Linked DNA regions of Homo sapiens: regions 2, 3 and 4 are each linked to region 1. The links come from fine-mapping of genetic effects on gene expression. A gene starts in region 1. Each other region holds a variant in brackets. All regions are shown on one strand. Distances are from middle to middle. Region 1 holds the start of ADARB2 (adenosine deaminase RNA specific B2 (inactive)). Region 2 overlaps ADARB2 (adenosine deaminase RNA specific B2 (inactive)). Region 3 overlaps ADARB2 (adenosine deaminase RNA specific B2 (inactive)). Region 4 overlaps ADARB2 (adenosine deaminase RNA specific B2 (inactive)).

Evidence for each region. PIP is the estimated chance that this variant, and not a neighbour inherited with it, causes the effect.
Region 2: its variant is the best candidate, but not a certain one, in a credible set for the expression of ADARB2 in spinal cord (GTEx, PIP 0.78).
Region 3: its variant is the best candidate, but not a certain one, in a credible set for the expression of ADARB2 in lung (TOPMed, PIP 0.66).
Region 4: its variant is the best candidate, but not a certain one, in a credible set for the expression of ADARB2 in prefrontal cortex (GTEx, PIP 0.85).

The regions. Positions count from the first base shown.
Region 1 is chr10:1,734,784-1,739,937 of GRCh38, forward strand. ADARB2 (adenosine deaminase RNA specific B2 (inactive)) reads right to left here and starts at 2,742. Exons shown (of 10, transcript NM_018702.4): 1 at 2,268-2,742. The coding sequence starts at 2,367. RefSeq lists an enhancer at 2,074-2,670 and a silencer at 2,632-2,691.
Region 2 is chr10:1,203,362-1,208,515 of GRCh38, forward strand. All of the region lies in intron 7 of ADARB2 (adenosine deaminase RNA specific B2 (inactive)), which reads right to left. Among named protein-coding and RNA genes, the nearest start is that of LINC00200, 46 kb to the left of the region's middle. The variant C/T (reference allele first, on the strand shown) is at 2,923.
Region 3 is chr10:1,617,437-1,622,590 of GRCh38, forward strand. All of the region lies in intron 1 of ADARB2 (adenosine deaminase RNA specific B2 (inactive)), which reads right to left. Among named protein-coding and RNA genes, the nearest start is that of ADARB2-AS1, 93 kb to the left of the region's middle. The variant A/G (reference allele first, on the strand shown) is at 1,996.
Region 4 is chr10:1,240,516-1,245,630 of GRCh38, forward strand. It overlaps ADARB2 (adenosine deaminase RNA specific B2 (inactive)), which reads right to left. Exons shown (of 10, transcript NM_018702.4): 5 at 1,616-1,784. Among named protein-coding and RNA genes, the nearest start is that of LINC00200, 83 kb to the left of the region's middle. RefSeq lists enhancers at 1,095-1,606, 1,607-2,117. The variant A/G (reference allele first, on the strand shown) is at 2,094.

The DNA.
Region 1 (5,154 bases):
GTATAGAGTTTTAATATCAGATAAGCTTAAAATTGAGGTTATTCTATTCATTTATGGTTGTTAAGATTCATGACAATTAGAACATAATTTAAACTCACCATTGTTTTTATAAAATAAAAAATATCAGCATCTGTAATAACTAGGTATCATAGATGAAGTAATCAATTCCCAGGAAAATGCAAATAATTATTTAATGTGTCTCTTAGCTGGTTACTTTACCTTTTAATTTGATCAGTTACATCTACATGGTTAACGTTTCCCCAAAAATTGAATCTTTAGCCGTTTGATTTGACTTTCCTATCAAGATAGCTGCCGGCAGGTGCCCTGGGAAATTCTCCCGCACGCCAGAAATCTCTTCGTAACAGAAATCAGTGTACAAAACCTGAATGCCCTTTCCCGCTTCAATTTTTGGCTATGAAAATTAAGGGACTTGACATATTCAAAATAACCAAGGTATGGAAATATTTGCTATAGGAGTTTTATTTTGAATTGCTAAAGTTAAGTTTATAGCAAATGAAGTCTTTCCCCAGATTTCCTTTTTCCCCCTAAATTGAATACTTTCTAAGCTAGCATGACTGACGCTTCCTGGCAAGGCAAGTGAATTTGGAGAAAGGCAACACTTTCCTCCTGTTTATATTTATAAAATGCATTATTGCGAACTATTACTCCACATTCTTCAACTCTAAATATTTAAATAGACTAATCAAAAAATATTGGGAAATGTGAACATTTCAAGTGTAAAGATGATGCTTCCTTTTTCCTCTTTTAAAAGTCATATTCATTATTCAATCCGGTGACTTTCTCAATATCAATGCCACTTTGTGTTGGCATTATCTTTGGAGGACACTAACAGGTCTGTTTCAAAATGATAATTTCAAACAACAAAGTGAATCGCAAGCGCACACTTAGCAGCTGAGAGGTAAATGAGAACCACAACATCACCTCCCTTCTGAAACCAAAGGCTCCAAAACCTTTTGAGGAAGTTGTGGGGGCCAATCCCTCCCAGTGGTCCTGACGTTCGGTCATAATGAATGACTGTTTGCTATTGACATTTATGCCTGCTGACTGTCTGGATAATTTCTATTATTGGAAGAGGCAATAAAGGACCTGGTGACGGTTCGAGGGCACACAGGAAACGGTCTGGTAGAAACTTATCTTAGGCCAATGCAAAGATGAAAATTCTTCAGGAAAGATGGACAACCCCAAACACACCTAACGTTGCCTCCTGCTTTCAAACAACTGGCAAAGCTGATCAATTCTAGCTGTGTTTTTCCAACCGTTCTTTATACTTCTACCTCACTTAAAAAAAATCAGCACATTTCAAATCATGATTAGAACTGAACTTTCTCCTGCAGGCTCACTAGGAACTGACAATAACACAGGTTCCTCTAGGAGAGAAGGGTCGGCATGAGAAGAATCTTTTAATTCTTCCTGGCATGCACACAGGCTACGATGGCACTGGGGGCATTGCTCTCATATTGGAGCGATTGCTAATTTTGCAAAATCCCCAGTGTGAAAGCCCTCCCTTGCTGTAGCATTGACTAACTTCAGCGCGGCCCAGCCCCAGGAATATCAGTAACAAGGCACAGCTGAGTTTGTCAGTGGCCGCTGTCAGCCGGCTGCTTTTCCTGCTTTCCTGGTTTGCGGTTTTTTTCTACCACTAACAAAATATGATGCTTCTTTCTGTTTTCCTGTATTCATTTCTGCTTATTTCTCCAAGGACGAGCCCTGTGTTCTCTTTACGACCCAATGTTTACAAATCGACGGGCACCACATTGAGTAAAAACTGCCAGCCAATTTGGAGAGGCGATCGCAGGGCTTCGCCTATCCCTTCCTCCGGGACAGTTTGGATGGGAGTAGCTGGCGCGAGGGCTCGTTCCCCCGTTTTTGGGTAATTCCTTTGGCACTGGGAGACGAGATGGCCTCCGGAGGGTGGAAGGCAGTGCCAGCCCGGCCGGCCACTGGGGACTGCGGGGCCCGGAGACGCGCGGGGTCCCCGGGGAGCTCCTCGCCGCCCTCGCCCCACTTCGTCCGGGTCCCTCAAACATGTCGCAGCGTGGCTGCTCACTGTCCCCTCTGGGCAAGAGGAGGCCCCAGACATTTCCACGGGATCTGAACTCCCGAGCGCCCTGCACGGAGCAGCCATCCCGCCAGCACCCCAAAGTGAAGCTGCTCACAACGGACAAGCCCGGAGACCCCATGAGAGGCCGGGGTGGAGAAGCCGGGGGTGAAGGGGGGCAGGGGCCGGCGCGCCACGCGGTCCTTACCTTTCCGCTTGGACCTCCGCCTCCTCCTCCTCTTGGACTTGCATTTGAGTTGACTGCTCAGCCCTCCAGACCCTCTGCCGCTCCCCAGGACCGAGGCCATGGCCGAGACCCAGGCGCGGAGCCCAGAGCCGCCTCCCTCCTGCACCTGCACCTGCCTCCTTCCCGGCAGCCGCCGCCGCCGCTGCTGCGAAGCTTGAGGTTGCAAACCCGGGAGCGGCTCACTTTTCAGGACTGAGCAGGAAAGCGCGCTCCGTCTCTCTGTCTCTCGAATTGTTCTCTATGACTTGCTCCCACTGGGCTGGGGGCCTCGGCTGGGCGCCTGGAGCGAGCTGCTCCCTGGTCAGGGAGGGCGGGGAAGGGCGCGCGGCGTCCTGAGTGCTCCGAGCTTCCCGCGGGCTCTGCCTCCTGCTCTGGGCTCCCAGCGCAGGGAGGCTACTTTTGCGCCTCTGCTAGTTGTTTGGCACCAGCCACTTTGAAGCCAATCACGCAGGGAGCTTGTCTATTTGCTGCAGCAGCGTCTAATTAGATCCAATCACAACTGCTTTCTGGCTCTGACATCAGCAGCAGCACCAGCCGCACCGCCGCCTGGCCGCTTGCAAACTCAGCTCCCGTTTGGACGGTGAAGCTCCCAGGACCGGCGGCTGGAGGGAGGCTGCTCCCGGGGAACAAGGACGCGGCGCGGGTGCGTCTGGGAGAGACCGGGGGAGCCTCCAGGAGGGACCCTGCCCGGGAGGACGAGGCCTCCTGCCGCAGCCTCGCGGACAGCTCAGCTCGCCCTGCTCAGAAAGACACAGGGACGGGTTTTTCCAACCAACAGTTTTTAACTAGTCAATTCATTACCATGCTCCTTGTGTCAAGGGGGGGAAATACCTCTTTCAGAAATGCAGAGACCGCACTTCCTCAGAAACGGACTGAGGTTTGCAATTCCCCAGGAGACAGCGTCCTGAGGGGCATTTATTCCTCAGAGCCTGCATGCTTGTCTGTTTGCCTCTTCTTTCCCCTCTTCATATTCCTTGGCCGTTTCCAATGCAAAAGATAAATCTTGCATAAAGACAGAGGTTTTGGGATCTGAGTCTGATTTTTGCCGTCAGGAATTTCATGTGTTGCTTTATTTAGGGAACAATGACACAAAAGGAAGAGAAAGCTCTCAGCGGAGAGTTTTGTTGCCAAATGTAATATTTGGATGGAAGAAAGTAACATTTACAAAGAGGTGGATTGCACACTGAAATAGTTTTAAGCAATTTTTTTTTCCAGGAATGTCCTATGTTTCAAGATTATACTTATGGAACCCTGGAAGTCTTATGTAAAATATAAAGAGGAATAGAATCTGGTAATCATCATTGCATCTTGTATTTAAATCACATAAGCTTTTAATTACAATAGTCATGTTTTTAAAAAAATCCACTCTAAAATTCATTAGCACACATTAACATGTTGATATAAAAATGGCACACAAATATTTCTGCTATTCATTGCCTCACATGCAACCTTTTCAGCTGCTTATGTGCCTAGAAATTTCCAGATAATTTTTATCATAAGAAAAAAGAATCACTCTGGGGGACATTGGAAATAATTAGGATGATCCTGTGTTGTTATGTGCTGAGCTGATAGATCGTAGCTCAGTTTTCATTGATGAGAGAGAGTAAGACATTTGATTTCAAATCTTAACTCTACTGCTATGACCTCGGGTAAGTTAAACCGTGCCTCAGTTTCCTCATCTGTAAACTGGGGATAACAACGTCACCCACCTCATAAGTTCATTCATACTCGTTGAATCAGTATCAACCAGTATAGACAGGAACTGGAACATGTTAATTACTCTATGATTATTTATTAAATTTTTTCCAGCAAATAATTTGGAAGGAATGAGCGTATGTTGCAGACAAGCCTCAGAAAGACAGGGCTTCTGCGTTTTCCTTTTAGAATGTTGAACCTTCTAGTCCAACTCAGACTGAGGACCACAATCAAACCAACATCCCTCTTCAGGGCTGGCTTCAACAACCCTGTTCCCATGACAGCACAGCTCAGCTCTGCTGATAATTCCCAGCGAGGGTTGAGAAGGCACATAGCTCTCTCACTTCCTCTCTGCAATACCCGAGATATTTGAGTGCTTAAACTATATCGAGAAACACAGCTCTAGGACTCTGCCTGTGAAACTTCTGAGCTTCACACAATGTGCTGCACTAATCCAGAGTTGCCCTATTTCTGTATCTGCAGAAAACCCATCAGGGGGTGGAGTCACCGAAGGAAGGTGCTTCAGAAGAGCTTCACACACACACACAGCCCCCACAAGGTGGTCAGCATTTATTAATGGCCCCAATAGCTCCATCATCACACGGAGCAACCGTGCTGTCTGGGAGACTCGTATACATGAACCCTTGTTTCACTCCAAGGGCAGGTATGGTGGCCGGAAAGTAACGTGTCTGTTAAATGTTCTTCTGATGTTGGTGGAGTGGGGAAACAAAACTGAAAACTGTCTTTGAACACTTCATTTAGACCCTAATTTGAAAGTTACGATCGAAATTTTGGCAAACCTTTTTCTTGAAGTTCCTCCAATTGGTTCTTTTTTGTATAATTTATGAAAATGCTGTTTTCACAGATACTTGCTGTTTTCTGTATTTTATTTATTTTGCATAAGACGATGCATAATAGATGATGCTAGGGCGACGGCTAGGCGAGAAAGCCTTTGTTTCTCATCACAGAGGGGCTTTAAAGAAGAGGCTCGCAGCGACAAGTGCGTTAACTCCAGCGTGGTTTCCAGCACGTCTCACTCTGCTGTTGCAAGCAGGGCTGCGAGTGAGCAGTGCTGGTAAGCTGCCATTCCCCGATGAGCCTCCTCACCTCCTGCCTGTTTCCCACAGTGCCTCAGCGCAGCTTTGCAACGTGG
Region 2 (5,154 bases), 530 kb before region 1:
CTCAGGCTGTCCCTGCAGGTGCGCCGGCATCAGGCAGGGAACAGGACCGCCCTTGCCTGTTTTGGACGCTTTGGTTTTCCGCCGTGACGCGGCCCTGTGAGGAGAAGTAACTCTCTAAAGTTACATGAAGCCTGCAGCAAAGTCCTCAGCTGCCACCCGTCCCGGCGTCTGCAGCTCTGCAGGGCTGGCTGTCAGGCCTGCTGCTGGGATCATCTGGGAGCTTTGAGGATCTCCAGAGGTCTGGCTCCCCCAAGGATTTTGGTGTGACTGGGGAGTCAGTGCGGCCATCAGCTTTCTCGGTGCCGCCCACGTGATTCTCCTGTGAGCCAGGGTTGAAGACTTCTGCAGCAAAGCGGCACATTTGGAGCCAACACAGTCAGGTACCAGTTAGGTCGTGATGCTGGTCAGTGGGGCCTCCCTTGACCGTTCTCTTGCTGCTCTGAGCGACTGTCTTCTCAGTGGACCTCAAAGTGGGATGTCTGGGCCAGCCATGGAGCATCACCTGAGAAGTTGATAGAAATGCAGATTCCTGGCTGCACCCCGGAGCTGCTGGCTCTTGAACTCTGGGGTGAGGCCCGGCAGTGCAAGTTCTAAGGAGGCTCCAGGTGGCTCTGAGGCTGCTCAGTTCGAGAACCACCGTCTCCGTGTTGGTTCTGGGGTCACAGTAACTGTATCTACCTTTCACGGCATTGGAAGAGCACAGGGGACAGTTGAATCTCTGGCCAGTCTGGGGGTGACATTTCCCTTCCTCCACACCCTACCTCCAAACCCTGTCTCACACCTTCTTCCTCCCACCTTTTGACAAGACAGGTAATAAGTCTGAGACGTCTCTGCATACAGGCCCCACCCCATTTCCAGGCCACTCAGACCTATTCTGGGGGCCTTTCAAGGTGAAATAGAAGCCAACAGCCTTTTGACTCAATAACACACCTGCTAGGAATTCACCCAGCATCTGCATTCTCAATGGAACGCCTGATATATGGATGGGGCCAGTCTTGAAGGGGCTGTTTGTAATTGCAAAGCAGACAAAGCACGGCAAAGCAGAAATGGGAAATCACCTGAGTGCGTCTTAACAGGGAACTGGTTACATAAATGATGGTGCATTATTGACACCCTGGCCTGCCTGACCATGGGTCCCACAGCTCTCGTGCCTCTGAAGCGGGCCTGGCTTGCTGGGACACCCTCAGGGCCAGGAGGCCACAGCTGCCCCACCTGCACCTTCTGTCGCGTGGACGCTCCGCCCCTCACTGGCTCCTGCCGGCCTCACCCGTCACATTGTGTAGGACGCTTGTGACTGCTCTAAAACCACAGGGCTTTCAAGCTGTCCCCTCCAAGGTCCCCTCCTGTGTCCAGCACCATCGTGACTGCCTCCTGCCGGGCTGCCCCTGCCTGGCCCTCAGGTGCCTGTGGTTTAAATCTCCTGGCATTGCTGAGCACGGGTCTGGTGTGCAGATGGAGGTGACTGATGCGTAGGAGGAAGCTGATGGACAGTTCGTCCCTTCGCCAGCAGCTGTGTTGTGTTCAAAGGTGGAAACAAACCAGCTAGGCTCTCAGTGACCCCACCCAACAGGCATTTCCTCAACGTGACTGTGACATCCACAGGGTGGGCCTGCACCTGCCTTGAGCCTCTGCAGCTTGGGATGCCTCAGCCTGAGGTGCTGGGATGATGCCACCTGGGACTGGGTCCCCTGACCTCCTGGGTTCTCCCTTAGGTCCCGGCCGCCATTCTGCAGAGACTCCTGAGTCCGTGAAGTGGATCCAGGGCCTCCAACCGCCCCAGCTGATCTGCCAGGAAAGGGGTCCCTGCTGCCCGGGGGCTGCCTCGGCTGGCGCCACGTGGAGATGAAGTGAGCCAACCCCCGAGCTCAAAGGGAGGGCTTGGGAGTACACGAGGGCCTTGTTGTTTTAGGGCCACCTAAAACAACAGGTTTTAGGTGGCCCTAGGGTTCTGAGGTGCTTTGCTTCACAGCAGGAGACAACTCACTGGAGCCCGTGGCACAGCCTGAGGGAGACAACTCACGGGAGCCCGTGGCACAGCCTGAGGGAGACAACTCACTGGAGCCCGTGGCACAGCCTGAGGGAGACAACTCACGGGAGCCCGTGGCACAGCCTGAGGGGTCTCTGGGTTGCCCACAGCTTCCCCAGGAGCTCACACAGGTCAGGCCAAGGGGAAGGGAGCCCAGTGCACACCCCCAGGCTCTGCGGTCCGAATGCTTGTGTTCCCAAAAATTCACATGGAATCCTCACCTCCCAGAGTGCTCCCCAGCCCCTTCCACCATGGGAGGACGCGGCACAGGGTGCCGTTACCACCTGGGAAGCACAGCCTCACCAGACGCGGAAACTGCTGGAGCAGAGACCTTGGCTTCCAGCCTCCAGCGCCAAGAGGAGCGGATTCCTGTCGTGGGCCAGCGTGTTCTGCGTGGTGGCCGGGATGGACCGAGACTGGGTAGATGCCATCCTGACTGCTGACGTTTGGGACGTGAGACATCTGGGGGCATGGGGCAGCCCGCTGCGGCCAGGTGGGGTCATGGGGCAGCCCACTGGGGTCAGGTGGAGGTCACGGGGCAGCCCGCTGGGGTCAGGTGGGGTCACGGGGCAGCCCGTTGGGGTCAGGTGGGTGTCACGGGGCAGCCCGCTGGGGTCAGGTGGTTCACGGGGCAGCTGGGCTCAGGTGGGGTGGGTGGGATATTCAGCCGCTTCCGATTATTTTCAGTAAATTACTTCCAGGCCACACATATCTCATTTCTCTTCTGAAAAACCCGTCTCAAAAACTCCCTTTCTCTTGATATTTCTCTGGCCAAGTCTACCCTGCAACACGCTGGTAAAATGTAAAATTCCTTCGCACGAGAGTGAAGAGGATGATCCCCAGGTGCGTCTCTCCATTCCCGGGTCCTAACGATTCCTCCTTAAGCCGGCTACCTG[C/T]GCGGGGGCCACGCTCTCCCACTGGGAGGATGGTTTCTGGGACATGCGGCGTCTCCTCCTTGTGCCTGTGCGTCTGAGAGAACTGGGGCGTCTCCTTGAACTGGGACGTCTCCTCCTCGTGCCTGTGTGGTCTGAGAGAACTGGGGCGTCTCCTCCAACTGGGGCGTCTCCTCCTCGTGCCTGTGCGTCTGAGAGAACTGCGGGGTCTCCTCCTCGTGCCTGTGTGGTCTGAGAGAACTGCGGGGTCTCCTCCTCGTGCCTGTGCGGTCTGAGAGAACTGCGGTGGCCCCTTGTGGGCCTCTTGGTTCTGGGGACAGAGGACACTTTTCACTCAGCCCGGGGACCTTTGGTTCTTTCTGTGAAGATGGCGCCCATGAGATGACGCCTTGTGACTCAGGTACCTCAGCCCTGCGCCTCCGTCTCTGCGTCTCTGTATTGGGTTGGTGGCGTCCACACTGTCTGCGTCGTTGCTGAGCATCCCAGGTCCCCACTCAGCCCGGCCTCGTGTTTTCTCTTGTCCTCCTGACTGGAGTTCCAGTTCTTACCTTGCAGATGGTGCGCTTGTCACCCTCTGCCGTCTCCACAGCATCTGGGCCGGGTCCCCCCAGGAACTGGGCTCTGGTCTCAGGAGCTGTGGCCGAGGTCGGTGGTGCTGGTGCAGGAGGGCAGAGCCGCGAAGGCAGCGGGGCTGCTGATTGTTTCATTATTACTTTTTATATTTGATAAGTGTTAGTGAATTGATCACTGCTTCTTTCCTCACTAGAGGTGTTATGTCACTTAAGGCCGGGCGCGGTGGCTCACCCCTGTAATCCCAGCACTTTGGGAGGCTGAGGCGGGTGGATCACTTGAGGTCAGGAGTTTGAGACCAGCCTGGCCAACGTGGCGAAACCCTGTCTCTACTAAAAATACAAAAATTAGCCGGGAATGGTGGTGTACGCCTGTAATCCCAGCTACTCGGGAGGCTAAGGCAGAGAATTGCTTGAACCTGGGAGGCAGAGGCTGCAGTGAGCCGGGATCACGCCATGCACTCTAGCCTGGGTGACAAGAGCAAGACTTCATCTCAATCTGTACAATTTTACTCTTTTAAAAGGAGTAAAAATATTTTTAAACCAGACTGGGGGAACTTGGGGTTCGGTGTTTAAAAGCAGTTCTGTTAGGAAGGACCTACACTCTGAGATTAGAACAATGAACATCACTCATTTGACCTCAGTGGAGTCAACAAATCATGGAGGAAGGCGTCAGAATTGTTCCCAGGTGGGCTGCGTGGCCAAGAGGAGGCACGAGAAGCTGTTGTTGAGGGAACATTGAGCAGCTGATCTCTAGGTGGGGGGAGACGGCACTCTGCACAGGCTAAAATTTAGGTTTAGAAATCAGCCAGTGCCGTATTCCCCAGAGAGCAGCTGTAATTTCTTATGGTTCATTTTCATGGAGAAAGTTTTAATCTGTTCATTTAAAGACACATTGTGATCAATAATCAAGCTCAGGTACTTAAAATTAGAAACCATATCTGAAGGAACATTAGTTCCAGGAGATTTAGATTTTTTATATGCCGCTCAATGTTTGATTAATCTTAGAGACAAAAGCTAAAAGCACCTCTGCAGTTTTCCTCATTCTTTTAGGAGCCTGGGGTTTGGCTGTTGGTGAGAGTCTAGCCTGGCTCCATAGAGCTGGAAAAACAGGCCGCGTCCACAGGCCTTCAGGATGGGACTGTTAGGCCTGCGGTGTCCGACCCTCTTCCCATGCAGGGGCAGGGTTTGGTCTCCAGGGCACTCCTAACCTTACCTTGTGGCTTTGCAGGTCAATTCTTATTGACCTGTGACTACCACTTTCTGCAGTTCCATCCCATCTTCCCAGGGCTATGGTGGTGGTAGGATTTTAGGAATCGAGTTTACTGTGACTTTATCTGTTCTCTGATTTCCTGAAGACCGGATAGGTGATTTCTCTCACCTGCCAGTGCCAGCCTCCTAGGGCTGCTGTGGGACAACCACAGTGGGGTGGCTTGAAACAGGGATGTTCCCCCAGTTCTGGAGGCCAGAGTCTGAAAAGGTGTCTGCAGGGTCGTGCTTTCCCTGGGTGCGTGTGGCTGGTGCCACCCCCCGGGGTCCCTGTCCTCCAAGCACCCACTGGCTCTGAGGTCACAGAGGAGGCCAAGGACACCTGGGTGTGTCTGTCCCTGGCCCCAGCACTCAGGTGCAGGCAGCCGGGCCCCATGCTGGGCTCTGTCCCTGCCTC
Region 3 (5,154 bases), 120 kb before region 1:
CTGACCTCAGAGGGTTGCATTCTGTCGCTAGATGTTTGTGTGCCCGTCCAGACACACTCCACACCGCCCTGCTGTGCTCTGCCTCCTGGGAACTGACCTCAGAGGGTTACATTCTGTCGCTAGATGTTTGTGTGCCTCTCCAGACACACTCTGCACTGCCCTGCTGAGCTCTGCATCCTGGGAACTGGCGTCAGAGGGCTGCATTCTGTTGCTAGATGTTTGTGTGCCCGTCCAGACACACTCCACACCGCCCTGCTGTGCTCTGCATCCTGGGAACTGGCCTCAGAGGGTTGCATTCTGTCGCTAGATGTTTGTTTGCCTGTGCAGACACACTCCACACCACCCTGCTGAGCTCTGCATCCTGGGAACTGGCCTCAGAGGGTTTTGCATTCTGTTGGTTTCAGTGATAGGGAGGGAGGCTCAAGGGTTAGTTTTCCTTCCAGTCTGTTTGACAGTTGCTGTGTTTCTCTTAAGCTCAAAACTTTTGTTGGACGGCTCTTCCCCTCCAACTACAGATTTCCCTGAGTTCAGTGAATTGCTGTCCACTTTTTTCCCCTAAGGCTGCATCTCCCCGGGAGCTTCATCATGCCCTTTAGTTTCTGTGACATTCTCTGCACCTTTAAGACGACTTCCTTTATTAAATTTCTTACTTAACCCTCTGAGTGTGCCATCTGCTGCCTGCCCAAACAGGTGTACCTAAGTTCCAGCCTTTACTCTAACAGAATGCCTTTAGGTGAGTCACAGAATTGCTCTGTAAATTAGAAGAGCAGGCTTGTTTATGAACTTTTCTTATTTAAGATCCTATAAGTCCAGCTTTACTTTAAAAAATCCACCACCATGACTATAACCTCTTTACTGCCATTCAACAACCCCAAATTATAACTGTTTAGTGGATATTGTAAAAGTATGTATAGCTTATCACCTTTTTAATAAGTCCAATAATGCTTCAAACTTAAGATGAATGAGAAGATTCTACCAACCCTGAAAATTCACATACCTATAGAAAATTCTGATTATTCAACCATAAGACACTTCATAATAATTTGCAAAAGTAATTTTTACTTTCAACAAGTCATTTTTTTTGTTCAAGTACAGTGTCACTAGGTTTAAAAATCAGATTTTTTTTTGAGAGAGGGTCTTGCACTTCACATATGCTGGAGTGCAGTGGCCCAATATTGGCTGACTGCAACCTCCATCCCTGGGGCTCAGGTGATGCTCCCCTCTCAGGCTCCCAAAAGTCAGATCTTAAGTGGTGCCACCTAGCAAGTTTGAGGTAGTTAAAAATCTGTGACGTGGTAATCGACAGTTTCTCAATGAATTAAATACAAATAAAAGAGTATTGTTTTGTTGGAGAGATCATTGTGGCAGGCTCAACAACAAAAACATTAAAGCCACTAAAAACAAATCACAGGCGAGATTTCCAGCAATGGCCATTTGAAGAGAAAATTAAACCCTCTCCTCCAAAAGCAACTATACAGCTGAAACCCCTGCCCCCTGCAGCTTGTAGAAGTTCTGTCAGATTAAGGCAGGCTGCGAAGGAACTGTAGCTTCTTGGCTGCAATTAATGGATCACCTGGCTTGGAGGAATGAATGGTGTAAAATAATCAACAGAGGAGTTAAAGTGATACACTCAGTTATTCAGGAAGAGATTGAGAAGGCGAGAGACATGTGGAAAATAAATTGCAAAATGGTAAATGTAAATCCAGCCATATCATTAGTTGCATTAAATATGAATGGTCTAAACACCCAAATAAAAAGAGCAGAGATCATCAGATTAGATAAATAAGTAAGATTTAGCTACATGCTGTCTACAAGATACATTTTAGAATCAAAGACACAAATACATTGAAAGTAAAAAAAAAAAAAAAAAAAGAAAAAATACGCACCATACAATGACTCTAAAAAAACTACATTTGCTGTATTATTTATTGATAGAACAATTAGGTGGAAAATTAAATGACAGTATTAATCAACTCAATCTATTTAACAAAAATA[A/G]GCACTTCATGTAATAACTGCAGAACATGTATTTTTGTTTTTTCAGAGTCTCGCTCTGTCACCAGGCTGGAGTGCAGTGGTGCGATCTTGGCTCACTGCAACCTCCACCTCCCAGGTTCAAGCAATTCTCCTGTCTCAGCCTCCCAAGTAGCTGGGATTACAGGGGTATGCCACCATGCCCAGCTAATTTTTATATTTTTAGTAGAGATGGGGTTTCACCATGTTGGCCAGGAGGGTCTCAATATCTTGACCTAGAGATCTGCCCATATTGGCCTCCCAAAGTGCTGGGATTACAGGCATGAGCCACCATTCCCTGCCCACATATTGTTTTTAAGGACAAGAAACATTTTACGAATAGATAATATGCTAGATTAGAAAAAAAATCAATACATTTAATAGAACTGGCATCATATAATGATGTTTTTGACCACAATGAAAGTAAATCAGAATTGAACAACAGAAAGAAATCTGGAAAATCTGCAAATATTTAGAAATTAAACAATATACTTCTAAATAACCCATGGATCAATAAAGGAAAAACAAGAAAAATAAGAAAAAAATTTAACTGCACTAAAACAAAATTATATTAAAATTTATGGGGTGCAACTAAGACAGTAGAGGGAAATTTATAGCTTTAAACACCTATATCAGAAAGAAAGGAAGATCTCAAATCAATATTCTAAGCTTCCATGTGAATATAGTAGAAAAATAAGAGCAAACTAAAATCAAAGTAAGACATAATAAAGATTAGAGCAAAAATCCATGAAATAGAAAACCAAAAAAATCAACAAATTGACATATTTAGATTGACCGACCAGTAATAAAAGACAGAAGACACAAATTATGAAAATTAGAAATGAAAGAAGAAACATTATCACCAATCTACAAAAATTAAAGGGGTCATAAGCACATGTTATGGGCAACTTTATGGCCCAAATGAGGCAACTTAGATGAGATGGGGGAAATTACTGGAAATGCGCAGATTTCCAAAAATGACTAAAGAGGAAATAAAAAAACTACAAAAATAACAATTAAGAAAATTAAACTAACAATTAGAGATCCCTTTACACAAGAAAAGGCCCAGGCCCAAATGGTGTCACTGGTGAATTTGTTAAATAAAGAAAAAATACTAACAATCTTTTACAAACTGTTCTAGAAAATGCAGAAGGGGAGACGACTCTCCATTCATTCAGTTGTTCTAATATTATATTGATAGCAAGCACAAAAATATCACAAAAAGTATAGCCCAAGATTTCTTATGAATATGGATGTGAAACTATTAACACAACATCACCTAACTGAATCAAGCACCATATGAAAAGGGTGTATGTAAAGACCAAGTTAGATTTACGCCTACAGTGAAAAGTTGGCCTAAAATGTAAAAATCACCTAGTGTAATATACTATATTAATCAAATAAAGATCAGACACCTGATTATCACAATACATGCAGAAAAAAGTATTGGAAAAATCCAGTACTCATTCATGACAAACTCCCTTAACAACTCTGAGTACAATGGAACTTCTGCAAGCTATAAAAGGGCATATATGAATCACTCATGCCCAGCTCCATCCTTAGTCATGAGTGGCTGAGTGCTTTCCTGTAGATCAGGGACAAGGGAAGGATGTCTACTTTCACACTTGAATTCAACAGTATACTGCTGGTCCTTGCAAGTATGAGAACAAAACAAACAAAATAAACAAACATGCCAATCATTCAAGGCATCCAGCATAGGAAATATTAAAATGTATTCATTTGTAGATGACATGAACATCTATGTAGAAAATCTGATAGAATCAACAAAAAATATATTAGAACTAGTAGGTATTTTAGCAAGATTGCAGGACATATGATTAGTATAAACATATCAATCGTCTTTTTATATATTACTAACAATCTGAAAAGAAAAACAAGAACATTGTTACATTTACAAGAGCCTCAAAAATAAATAACTAGGAATAGTTTCTTCTTTTTCTTTTTCTTTCTTTCTTTTTTTTTTTTTGAGACAGGGTCTCACTCTGCCACTTGGGCTGGAGAGCAGTGGCATGATCACAGCTCACTGCAGCCTCGGCCTCCCAGGCTCGAGTGGTTCTCCTGCCTCAGCCTCTGGAATTGCTGGGACAGCAGGCACATGCCACCACATCCAGCTAGTTTTTGTATTACTTGTAGAGATGAGTTTTCACTGTGTTAGGAACACACTTAACAGCAACAACAACAACAGTGAAATGCAAGACTTGTGTACTGAAAACTACAAAACATTACTGAAAGAAATCAAAGGAGACCTAAGTAAATAGGGAGAAATTCCATGTTTCTGGATTTAAAGACTCAGTAATGTCAAGATGTCAAGATAACAATTCATCCCAAATTATCCATGGATTCAATGCAATCTCTGCCAAATCTCAAATCCCAGGATTTTTTTTGTAGAGAATGTCAAGCTCCTCTTAAAATATGTATGAAAATAAAATGCAAAGGATCTAATAGTAAAAAACAATTTTGCAAAAAAATAAAGAAAGAAAAAGGTTGGAAAACTTATACTAGCTGATTTCAAAATTTACTACCAAGGTAAGGTAATCTAGATAAATTGAACAGAGTTGAGGGTTCATGAATTAATGCTTACATCCATGGGCAACTAATTCCTCCAAAGGTACTAAGAAATTTCAATGGGGAAAGGATACTCTTTTCAAGAAATGGTTCTGGTTCTACTGTATACTCACATTCAAAGAAATGAATATACACCATTACCTTACACTATACACAAAACGCACAATGAACCACAGACCTAAAGACCCTAGCTAAAATTTTAAAACTCCTAGAAGAAAACAGGAAAAAATCTTTATTAGCTTGAATTTGGCAAATAATTCTTAGACACAACATAAAAGGCACAATTCATTAAGGAAATATCAAAAAGTTGGACTTCATCAACTTTTAAAACTTTGAGCTTCAAAACACATCTTTAATGAAAAAATAAATCTTATACAGGTTGAAAATATTTGCAAGTTATATATCTGATAAAGAACTTTTATCTAGAATATATATATAAAGAATCCTACAACTCAGTAATGACAAGAATCCAGTAAAAAGGAGTAAAATTTTGAACAGTCATGCCACTAAAGAGGACATGTAGAAAACAAAAACTTAAAAAGATGTATACCGTCATTA
Region 4 (5,115 bases), 490 kb before region 1:
TCTTCCTGCCTCTGTGCCTGCACTCTGCCCACAGCCACCATCCCCCACTGCCCCGGCTGCCTCCCCCAGGACCCTTGGCAAATGTATCCCAAGCCTGGGCCCCGGCACAGGGCCTGTCAGCCACGTGGCTGCCCTGGACTCCCCCTCCCCTGTGCTGGTTCCCCATGCAGGGCAGGCGTCGGGTGCACCTGTCTGTGGACCCCCCCAGCTGGTGGCACAGCACCAAGCATGTAACCAGCTCCTGGTAAATATTGGTCCAGTTGCCTTCTCTGACACAAACAAGAGTGAGGGATCTTGGTGATAGTCCCAGTTGAGCAGGTGGACATTTAGGAGAAATCCTTCCCTACATTCTGAGATATTTCTGTTCCCCCATATCCAACTCCTGCTGCACCCCGCAGGCCTCAGGGAACTGAGGGATGGGTTCAACCTGTGGCTCCCTGCTCAGAGGCTCAGATAAGAATGAGCTGAGTGTGGGCTGAGCACAGTGGCTCATGCCTGTAATCTCAGCACTTTGGGAGGCCGAGATAGGGTGACCACTTGAGGTTAGGAGTTTGACAACGTGATGAAACCCCGTCTCTACTAAAAATACAAAAATTAGCCAGGCGTGGTGGTGAACGCCTGTAGACCCAGCTACTCAGGAGGTTGAGGTGGGAGAATTGCTTCAACCCGGGAGGCAGAGGTTGCAGTGGGCCAAGATAATGCCATTGCACTCCAGCCTGGGCGACAGAGCAAGACTCCATCTCAAAAAAAAAGAATGAGCTGAGTGTGTTAAGGTGTTGTTTTCAGCAGCGTCTGCTTAGGGCTACACGTGGGCCTTTCTCCTTTTGTGTGGCTTTTGCACAGCTAATGGGCATGGAGATGACCCTTGCCAAAGCCCCCCAAGGTCCCATTACTCGTAGATTTGAGGAACGCAGATGGCTTCAAGGGATGTGAAAGAGTAGACAGCAGACACAGGAGGGAGCGTTTCAGGAGAGGAGCCCACAGTGAGCCCTTGGGACTGAATGGCCCAGCCTGGGGGTGTGTCGCGGAGGCCACGTGCTGCAAACCACCTGGGTTTTGCTCCTCTCTAAAGTGTCTCAGGGACAGGAGGCTGCCCCATGACAGCCACCAATGCCTGATGGCCAGAGCAGGCCAGGGAACCCTGGGAATCCCAATACTGGGGCACAGTTCTCAAGGCCTCAGCGGCCTCTTCACATGTACTTGGCACAGGAGGCAAGAAGACAGCGCGTCTCCAAGCCACCCCTTGGGCACTGCACTCACGTTCTCTGAGGGCAACGGCGGAAAAGGGGGCAGTGCAGGAATGTGGGGGGCATGGGGAACCGAGGCCAGGAGAGGGTGGCCTTGCCCGGAAGGACGAGGGCTGCAAAGGTGTTTTCTGGAGGGAAACGTGGAGTAAGGAGGAAGCCTGGAATTTTAGCATCTTCCCAGCGCACACGGCGGCTTTATTGGTGTGCCAGGGATGTCTCTAGTCTGAATAAAAAGGGATGCTTTCTGGCTCACCCTGTGCCAGGATAGAGGGAAGCGTGTTCTGAGCCAGGCATGGGGCCCCATCTGCTCCCTGGCAGCCCCCAGCCGCGGCGTCCGCCTTCCCTGGAGCCCGTCCCCAGCCGCTCACCTCAGGTGCAGCTCCAGCTGCGTGTAGAGGAAGTGCAGGAACGCCCGCCGGGCCACGACCTCCGCGTGGCAGTCATTCACCACCAGCCCCTGGTCACTGAGGTGCTCGCCGCTGATGCACTTGGTCCCCGAGGACAGGGCCACGACCTGCGCCTGCCGAGCATCCAGGCCTGGGGACACAGATAGCATCAGAGCAGCGTGGCCCACGGCCCCCGTCTCCCTCCTCCTCGGTCTTTTCAGGGTCTCACAACAGCGGTTTCCCTGGGTTAGGAAACCTTGGAAACACTGCGTTTTGAGAGCTGGGAAGCGAGGCTTCTGTGTGCTCCAGGCTGTCACGGGTGACCGCCCGCCTGAGGGATTCCCATCTACTTCATGGTGGCCTGAGACAGCGCTCAGAGTGCCTCTGCTATCCTTAAGGTTGCTGAAATGCTCCTTAGGCACCATAGGAGCAGAGTTTTGAGGTCAAACTTACTACCAGG[A/G]CAGTTTTCTCCACCTGAGTCCCAGGTCCCCTGTGAGTGGGAGCAGTGCTAGCTGCGGCCTGGGCTTCCTGCCCAACCTCTAACCACCTTTGTGCTTTCTCCTGTCCTCCAACGGGATCAGGGCAGGACAGGAGCTGATGAACCCTTCACCCTAACACAGAAACACAGGACAGGAGCTGATGAACCTGTCATACTAACACAGAAAGGAGGCTGGATGTGTCATTTTAACCATAGTCAAAGGAACCCCATCCACAAAAATGATACTCTCTTCAGGGACTGAAAACAAACAACAAAGAAACCTCAAAAACAACCCCCAACGTAATGTCCTTAAAGTATAATATTCATCACTTTGTTTAAGGAGGAGAAGCTGGAAGACACAAGCCAATGTTTGCTGTGCTCTAACAGGTCTGTGTGGATGTGTATTTTCTCTGCACTTAGATGGTGAATTCCTTGAGGACACGAGTCAGAATTTCCACCAAATACTCCAAGCAAGGGCTCCCTAGGGAGTCCGTGTCATTAGACGGGTCAGTGTTGCCGATCCAATAACAAATCCATCATCCAGGCCCTTCGGCTGGAGGTGGCAGGAATGTTGCGGGTGCCCAGGAGCCTTGGGATGTGACAGCCACTGGCTGGGCCCGGATCGCAGGCCAAGGGAGGGCAGCACGGAGACGCGTTAGCCGCTGACCGCGGCCACGTCCACAGAGTTACCTGTAAATACACGTCCGGACCATTTCTTGGAAGAGGTGACACACAAATTAATGTCACGCCAGAAGCAGGCCTCCCTCCCATCTTAAATAAAATCGACTAATTAATGTCACGCCAGAAGCAGGCTTCCCTCCCATCTTAAATAAAAACAGTGCTGGCTGGTCATGAGCGCTTCTCGCTTCTCACACACTTGTTCCTCTGATGTGACTTTTTCTCCCCTGAGAACTTAGTTCTTGAGCCCTGAGGGCATCTGCCCTCTCTGGGCCTCACCGTGGGATCTTTCTTCGTGAGATAAAAGGGTGGTGTCAGCAGCTACCAGTGACAGCCAGGGAGAATTCGGGGCCGGGAGGGACCGAGCACTGGGGAAGTAACCTGCAGAGGCCCAGCAGCATCCTTGCCCCCATGGCTCTGCAGCTGGGGTCTGTCTGTCCAGCCTCCTTCCTTCCAGGCAAAGCGGTCTAGCACAGCCCCCGCCTCCTGCCCATGTCCACTGCTCTCTCCGCTCATCCCAGCTTCTCCCAGCAGCCCCCGTTTCTGTGCCCGAAGAGAACTCCATGGTCCTGGTCCTGTTGTCTACCCACTGCCCCCTCCCTGGTGGGACGGGACTGCTCCTGAGCTCAGGAAGTGACCAGACTTCCCCACGCCGCTTTAATCAGAACAGGACACGACCAGCCGCCCTGAGGTTCCTCCCCCAGGAAAGCTCGTGAGCAGCTGCCGGGTTCCAGGTCCAGGCCTCCTCCTCTCTCAGCCATCCTGGGTGCGGGGGCTGCCCCCTAGCGGGGGTCCCAGAAGTTGACGAGCAGATGGGACCAGGATCTAAGGCTACAGGGAGCTGGGGTGGGCAGCTGCTACTGACTCTGCCAGGGGTGGGAGCCACCATCTCACTCAGGCCGTCAGTGACATGTGGACTGTTGAGAAATGGTTCACAAGGATGACATCGTGATGCAGAAACCACCCCTCAGGTTCCAGCTTCGTTAAAGCTGGTATTTAGAGAAATGGGAAACACATTGATAACGATTCCTAACCAGTTTCAGTGTTCACGACCGGTGCGCATGCAGTCTCTGGTGGAAACGGACAGCTCTTCAGGAATAGGTGCTGTGGCCTGTGAGGCCCCGGCCTGCTCCTTCTCTTTGGATTCCGTGGAAATTGGAGCTGTAGAAAAAAGCAACTGCTTTCCCTTTACCCCTCATTGATTCCCAGCTCCGTTTGGCTCCAGACTCTGCCACACTCAGCACAATTACGTGGCCCAAGAAGTGTTTGCATATTCAGTTTTCATGATTCTCACCCCCACCGCCAGCACCACGTTCCCAACACAGGAGACGCGAAGCCTGGACCGAGGGAGATGACGCGGTCAGAAACGGCTGCAGCATGAGATGTCGTATGAGAAATGTCGCGGAAGTGCTGTACATGGAATGTCACCAGCATGACAGTGAGGGAGGAAAAGGGAGAGACGGACTCACACCCAGGGAGCTTCTGCACAGGTGGCAGGAGGAGGCGTCCTAGGCAGAGTGGGCATGGTGGTCAGAGGCACGGATAGGAAAGGGCACAGGCATATTCTGCATAATCTGCGTATTCTACGGGCCGTTGGAGCCCGTAGGAGATGTGTGTGGGAAAGTGGCGAAGCTTCAAAGGTGGGTGGAAATCAGTCACAGACGCCTTGAGTACCACCCTGAAGATCTAGCTCTTCACCAATAGACAATGGGAGCTGTGAAAGGGTTTTCCGGAAGGACAGCAGTACTGTTGCCCATGAGTGAGTGCTGGGTTGCACAGGAGGAGAGAAGGGGCCAGGACACTGGGTGGGAGGCTGGGGCTGGACATGGTGCATGAGGACTTAGGAAGCACCCTCAGGAGTGGATTGGTGGGAGGGACCCAGAGAGCACAGCAAGGACCGAATCCACAGGATTTGGGAAATTTACACAGAAGATGAGGGAGAGGAAGAAGCCAGAAAATGTGCTTGAGTACCACACATTACAAATGAGAAATAGGAAGATTTTTATTTATTTACTTATTTTTTGTTTTTTCTTTTTCTTTTTTATTATACTTTAAGTTTTAGGGTGCACATGTGCACAACGTGCAGGTTAGTTACATATGTATACATGTGCCATGTTGGTGTGCTGCACCTGTTAACTTGTCATTTAACATTAGGTATATCTCCTAATGCTATTCCTCCCCCCTCCCCCCACCCCACAACAGGCCCCGGTGTGTGATGTTCCCCTTCCTGTGTGCATGTGTTCTCATTCTTCAATTCCCACCTATGAGTGAGGACATGCGGTGTTTGGTTTTTTGTCCTTGTGATAGTTTGCTGAGAATGATGGTT